Linked DNA regions of Homo sapiens: region 2 is linked to region 1. The links come from fine-mapping of genetic effects on gene expression. A gene starts in region 1. The other region holds a variant in brackets. All regions are shown on one strand. Distances are from middle to middle. Region 1 holds the start of VIPR2 (vasoactive intestinal peptide receptor 2). Region 2 overlaps VIPR2 (vasoactive intestinal peptide receptor 2).

Region 1 (2,908 bases):
TCCCCCCACCCATCCTTTTGGTCTTGATCTTCCCCCTCCCCCACCACCGACCAAAATTCTACTTGTACTAAAGTAGTAACTAAAGAGAATCATACTGTTGGGCGTACTATGGCCATCTATGTTTAGTTATCTTACTATTGAAATGGTCAATGAGAGTTCCAACCAGGAACACAATATCCTAACAGAATTAAGGGGAAAACAATGCTGGAACTTCTGCCACCTTCAGCCCCATTTAAAAGAGCCCCGAGCTTGCTTCTTGCTCGTGACTGAACCAGCACCAGGCACTGACTTTGGGCTCCAAGTCCTCTGTTTTCATGCAGGACAAGTAAGTGGCTTAAATTTCAGAATTAAGGAAATTATATTGATGTAAAAAGAAAAACTTTGTTAAAGTGTAAAAGACATTAATAATACCTGACGTTCCTGGAATATGCACAGCAATGACTTCTTTTAGGACATTTTAGCAATGAAAGCAGCATTAACCGTGATAAAACCCGTTACTTTCCAAGGACCCGCTCCGCAAAGCGCCCACCCTCGAGGGAGGAAAGCCGAGCTGCGCCTCCGCGCAAGGCCAGGGAGTGTGGCTCGAGCCCCGCTGCAGACCGGGCGTCGCCGGTTAATCAATGACACTGTCGGGTCAGCAGCGCAGCCTCCCAGCTGCGGAGGGGCCGCGGATCGATCCAGACCTGCCTCGGCTGCGACGCGCACGAAAACCGCGCGCACCGCAAACCCGCTTCAGTCTCCAAGAGGAAAGCAAGAAACAAGGCTCGGGTTTTTTTCTTTCTTTTTTCTTTCCTTTTTTTTTAAGGTTCACAGAGGGAATAATTCAGAACTCCATGTGCGAAGGCACTTAATCAACAAACTTATGAGCAGTTAGTTCCTCCAGTGCCCTTGGGAAAAAGCAACTATTTCCAAAAGGAAACTTTATTTAACCGACGCCACGTCCCCCCGACACTAAAACTAACCAGTAAGTACAGGGAGGGACCGAGAGGCATCTGCGGCCAACGCCAACCCCGATCTCCCCGTGAAACGCGCAGCCCGCGCAGGCGCCCGCAGCTCCCAGCTCCCGGGACGGCCCCGAACGAGCTCATCGTTGACGCGTCCAGGAAGAAACGATCCCGTTTCCAGCAAACCCCGGACGGTGGGGCGCGGGGAAGGGCGCAGGCAGCCTCCCAACCCGAGTCCCGCAACCCGGCGGGACCGGAGCTCAGCGCTTCACGCTCTCCGGGAGGAAGCTCCGGACCCCGGGCGACCCCGCTCCCTCTCCCGGACCCCGCCCGCGCTCCAGCACCCGGGAGGAAGGCGAAGACCGGCGGGAGGAGCGCTCTTCTCGGAAGGGGAGAACCGGGTCCGAGGCGCCGTGGGGCGGGGGTCGCGGGCGCACTCACGGGGGCGAGCAGCCAGCAGGTCAGCAGCGCGGGAGGCAGCAGCGTCCGCATCCCGAGCTCAGCGTGCCGGGGGCCGCCCAGCGCCCGCCGCCTCCGTCCTAGGTCCCCGCGGTTCCGCCGCCTCCAGCATGGGCCGGGAGCGAGTGCGCGGAGACCTCGGGCCCCGCAGCTGTAGCCGAGCGCCCGAGCGCGGGGGCCGCCCCCTCCGTCCCGGCAGCTGGAGCGCGCTCAATGCACGCCCGTCCCCCACGCGCCCCGCCGCTCCGCCCCCCGCCCCTGTCCCCGCCCCGCGCTGCCCCAATCCTCGTCTCCCTCCTCCCCCGAGAACCCCCGCTCCGCGCCCCTCCTCACCGCCCCCCACTTCCCCTTCCGCTGCGCCCCGCGCCCTCTCCTCGCCCCTGGGCTCTCTGTCCCCGCCGCGCGCGCTCCCTCTGGTCTCCTCGACCCCCCCAGCCTCTCTCTCCGTTCTCCTCCCCTCTTCCCTGGCCCACGCCCCCCTCCCGGCCGCGCCTCCCCGATCTGTGGGCGGAGGGGCTGGGAAGCGGGGTGCTCAGTGCGCGCCCGGCTCCGAGTAGAGAGAACTGGGGGAGAGCGGCCGGCGCGGGGCCGGGAGAGGAGGACCGGGCCAGGTGTGCGCTCGGAAGGGGCGGATGCCTTTGCGGCCGCCTGTACCTGCCTTTCTAAACAACTGCGGAAGCCCAAGAAAGCGGCCAGAGACCCGTCCGGGGTGGGCGCGCCGTCTTTGTAGCCAGTGGGGCTAGGTTGGGGCATCTGAAAATGGAGAAAATCAGAGTGCTTTTTGGTGGGGATCCCCGCAGCCTCAAAGAGGACATCAGGTCGAACAGAAAGCTGGAGAAAAACGCAGACGGGGGTATAGGTGGGTCCCAGCCTCAGCTGGGTGGCGGGTTTTGTGTCCTGCGTTTGCAAAACGGGGGTCATTCTCTCCCCGCAAACGCGGCGGCGGGTGGGGAACGCTGGGCGGGGACTCACGCGGTGCCACTGGGGCCGCCCCGCCGCGCCCCACGCGGGACTGCGCGGCCTCCCAAGGCGCCCGCGTGACCAACCCAGGAGAGCTCGGCGTTCCCCAGCAAGTGGAAAGCACTGGAATGAGAGATACAAGTTAAGTTCGTGTTGTTTTAATTTTTTATTTGGAAATAATTTCAAACTTACACAAAAATTAGAAGAATAAGAATATTACAAATAACTCCTTTTTATCCTTTTTGTGGATTCGGTCATTAACATTTACCTCATTGGGCTTATCATTTGCTTCTCTCTGATCCCCCACCCCCCGTATTCACAGATATCGATTTTTCTATCATCTGATGTTTATCATCCACATTATCTATCATCTACCTATCCATCATCTACGTATCATCTATCGATCTGTCATGTACCTATCATCTATCATCTTCCTATCGATCATCTATCTGTAATCTGTCATCTATTATCTGTCATCTATCATCTACCTGTCCATCATCTACCTTTCATCTATCCATCTGTCAGGTATCTATCATCATGCGCCT
Region 2 (2,908 bases), 88 kb before region 1:
TTCCAAAGCTGTGTGGCCACTGCGCCAGGCTCACACACCAGTGCCGCTCCCTCTGGCTTCTCCTCAACACCCCTTCCTCAGAAGGCAAATGTCCCCCACCGGTGCCGTTTTGCTTCCCACTGATTCTCTCCTTGGCTGCATTCATCTCTCCAAATCACCTTTTTCCCTCTCTTATTTTTTCTCCTTCCCTCTCTCTTCCACCCCCTGTGTTTCTGTGGAGTGGGGTTGGCACTTACAGCCATTGCTCAGAGATGAGCATGCTTTTGGTCCAGTTAGCAAGCCATCCAAATACATGTTTGCTGGGTTTCTCAGTGATATTCTTCATTACTCACTGCTCGTTTTAAATTTTCACTTCCACGTATGGATCTGCCAATGGGCAATGGAGGTAGTAGAAAGTGTGGCTTCCGGAAAGGGGGACCAGAGTCTGCTCATTAGCAATGGTGGGAAAGGATTTTGGAGGCCACGTCCATCTGACAGTGACAGAGGTGCAGGCTGCAGTGATGAGAGCCTGGGTTGAAATCAGGGCTCTGCGTGCACCAGCTCAGCAACCCTGCAATGTCCAGCGACCTTCCTGGGGCTGCACTCTCCACCTGGAGAAACTGGGTCAGTGGCAGTACTTACCTGATGATGTTAACATCTGTAAAGTACTTGACACGGTGCATATTAGCAGTTACAGCTGTCCCTTGGTATCCACAGGGGATTGGGTCCAATCCCCCTCCCCCAATCTTGCCCCCCTTACCCCATGCCAAAGTCCATGAATGTGCAAGTCCCACATTTGCCCCTTCAGGACCCGTGGATATATGAAGCTGGTCCTCTGTATCTGCAGGCTTCTCATCCTGAGAATAGGCCATACTTCTGATCTGTGGTATCCATCAATACAGAGGGCTGACTGTATTGAAAAACATTCTCAGAGAAGTGGACCATGCAGTTCAAACCCGTGTTGTCTGAGGAGCAACCGTGCTGTGGACCCTGCTGGACTGGCATGGACTGGAACCGTCTCTGTCAGTCCCTGGGTCACAGGGGCAGCTGTCACCATAGGATGACTCCCCTACAAAGCTGGTCCTGTATTTGTTGTGAGCGTCAACACTGCACACTTTGGGATGTGTTCTAAGAAGTAAGTAGCTCCATTTCCCGTGTATAAAATAAGAACATGGCTACTGAAGGCTTTCTTGGCTTATTGGGCTATTTTGGAGAAGAAATGTTCAATGCCCGCAAAGCATTCTGCTTCCTGGGTATAATTACTGAGACAATGGAGCACGTTATTTTTATAATTCGGACTTTAGAATTGACAGACTCTCACAGCTCTCAGGAAGTGGCACTGGACCCTGCTTCTGACAGAAGGACGTGGGATGAGCCCCAAGCCTAGAGCTGCACACCAGCTCTGGACACTATGTGGTCACCAGCAGAATGACATCCAACACAGACATGCACTTTTTTCAGCTCAGAAGTGCCACAGGCAGGTGACGAATGATGCCTACAGATGGAGGGGTGTGTTCTGTGCCCTAAAGGATCAGTGTTCATAGGCGGGATAATTCCTGATGCTCTTGGGTTGCCTAATTAAATATGTCATGCTGTACATATGTGAAGGAAACAGATGTGTGTAAAAAATAGGGATTGTTCAATATAGGAAAATAAGATAAAATTTTCAGATTCAATTTCCCTGGGTCAGCTTACTTCCTTAAAGTTTTCCTCTTTCTCTTTAGCAACTTAAAAATTTAAACATATACAGTAAAATAGTAAACATATATAGTAAATTATACTCTATAAA[ATATAAG/A]TATAATAGAACAAATATTAATATTGTACCAGATTTTAAAAATAACTAGAATATGATAGGCCTTCCTCACTTTTCAAAGTGCAGCCCTGTATCAAAGGTAGACTTATTCTTTCTGAGAATTACCAACCATAGTTGAGATGCCTGAACAATAAAAAGCATAGCTCAATTACATTTGCTGGCTTTCTTAGCTGGATTCTCAACCACTCCTAACTTGTTTATTTTACACTTCCAAGTATGGATCTCCTAATGGACTGTTGTTAGGGTCTAGAAATATTCCATTTATCATTGATTTTTATCTGACATACTGGCAAACATTTCGATTACATTTTAGCAAAGAGAAATAAAATATGTAGTGATTGATACATAGAATAAGCTGAATAGCCTCCATTTTATTTAGTGCTAATGATACGTAAGACAGATTTAATCCTAATTCACCAGAGCTCTTCCTATAGAGAAACTGCCGTTCTGGGACCAAAACCTCTACCCCCAACCCAAATGAACAATGATTTGATTGGTCAAATCATCTGCACTATGTCATCATTAGTTACCAAGAGACCCACTAAAGATGCAGGTGTGCAGGGGCCATCTCACCTCACTGCCAGGGAAGAGTGGGCAGCATTTAATAAGCCCTCATCACAACCTCACGTGCCATGCTAAGCCCTTCACATCTACCGACACATCAAGTTCTCACAACAGCCCTCTGAAGGGGGCTTCTTAGTCTCCACACATTACAGAAGCACAGACAAGTTAAGTACTTTGTCCAAGGTCACACAGCTGCTAAGAGACTGACCCAGGATTTGAACCCAGACAGCCTGACTCCACCTTCATGCTCTTAAACACGTCGTAGCATCTCTCTAATAGAGCACCTACAGCCAAAACACAGGAGCTTCTGGATGGCAAGGGTGAGATCCTATTTTTTCTGTATTTTCCACGCATTTGCATAATGGCTAAGTATTTAATAAATGATAGCTGAGCTGAGTTCCTATCCAAGGTCAGCATTATCTCTTTACATAATAAATGCAGAGTATTTAAATAAAAATGTAAATGTTAACATCATATTTAATGGCAGCATTCTCCATGGGAGTCTTATTGGCTTAGCACACAGAGGGCTCCAGGCTGGGTGGCGCCTAGAAG

What was found. PIP is the estimated chance that this variant, and not a neighbour inherited with it, causes the effect.
Region 2: its variant is the best candidate, but not a certain one, in a credible set for the expression of VIPR2 in whole blood (TOPMed, PIP 0.72).

The regions. Positions count from the first base shown.
Region 1 is chr7:159,143,336-159,146,243 of GRCh38, forward strand. VIPR2 (vasoactive intestinal peptide receptor 2) reads right to left here and starts at 1,532. Exons shown (of 13, transcript NM_003382.5): 1 at 1,386-1,532. The coding sequence starts at 1,436.
Region 2 is chr7:159,055,511-159,058,418 of GRCh38, forward strand. All of the region lies in intron 5 of VIPR2 (vasoactive intestinal peptide receptor 2), which reads right to left. Among named protein-coding and RNA genes, the nearest start is that of LINC00689, 49 kb to the left of the region's middle. RefSeq lists an enhancer at 2,467-2,908. The variant ATATAAG/A (reference allele first, on the strand shown) is at 1,769.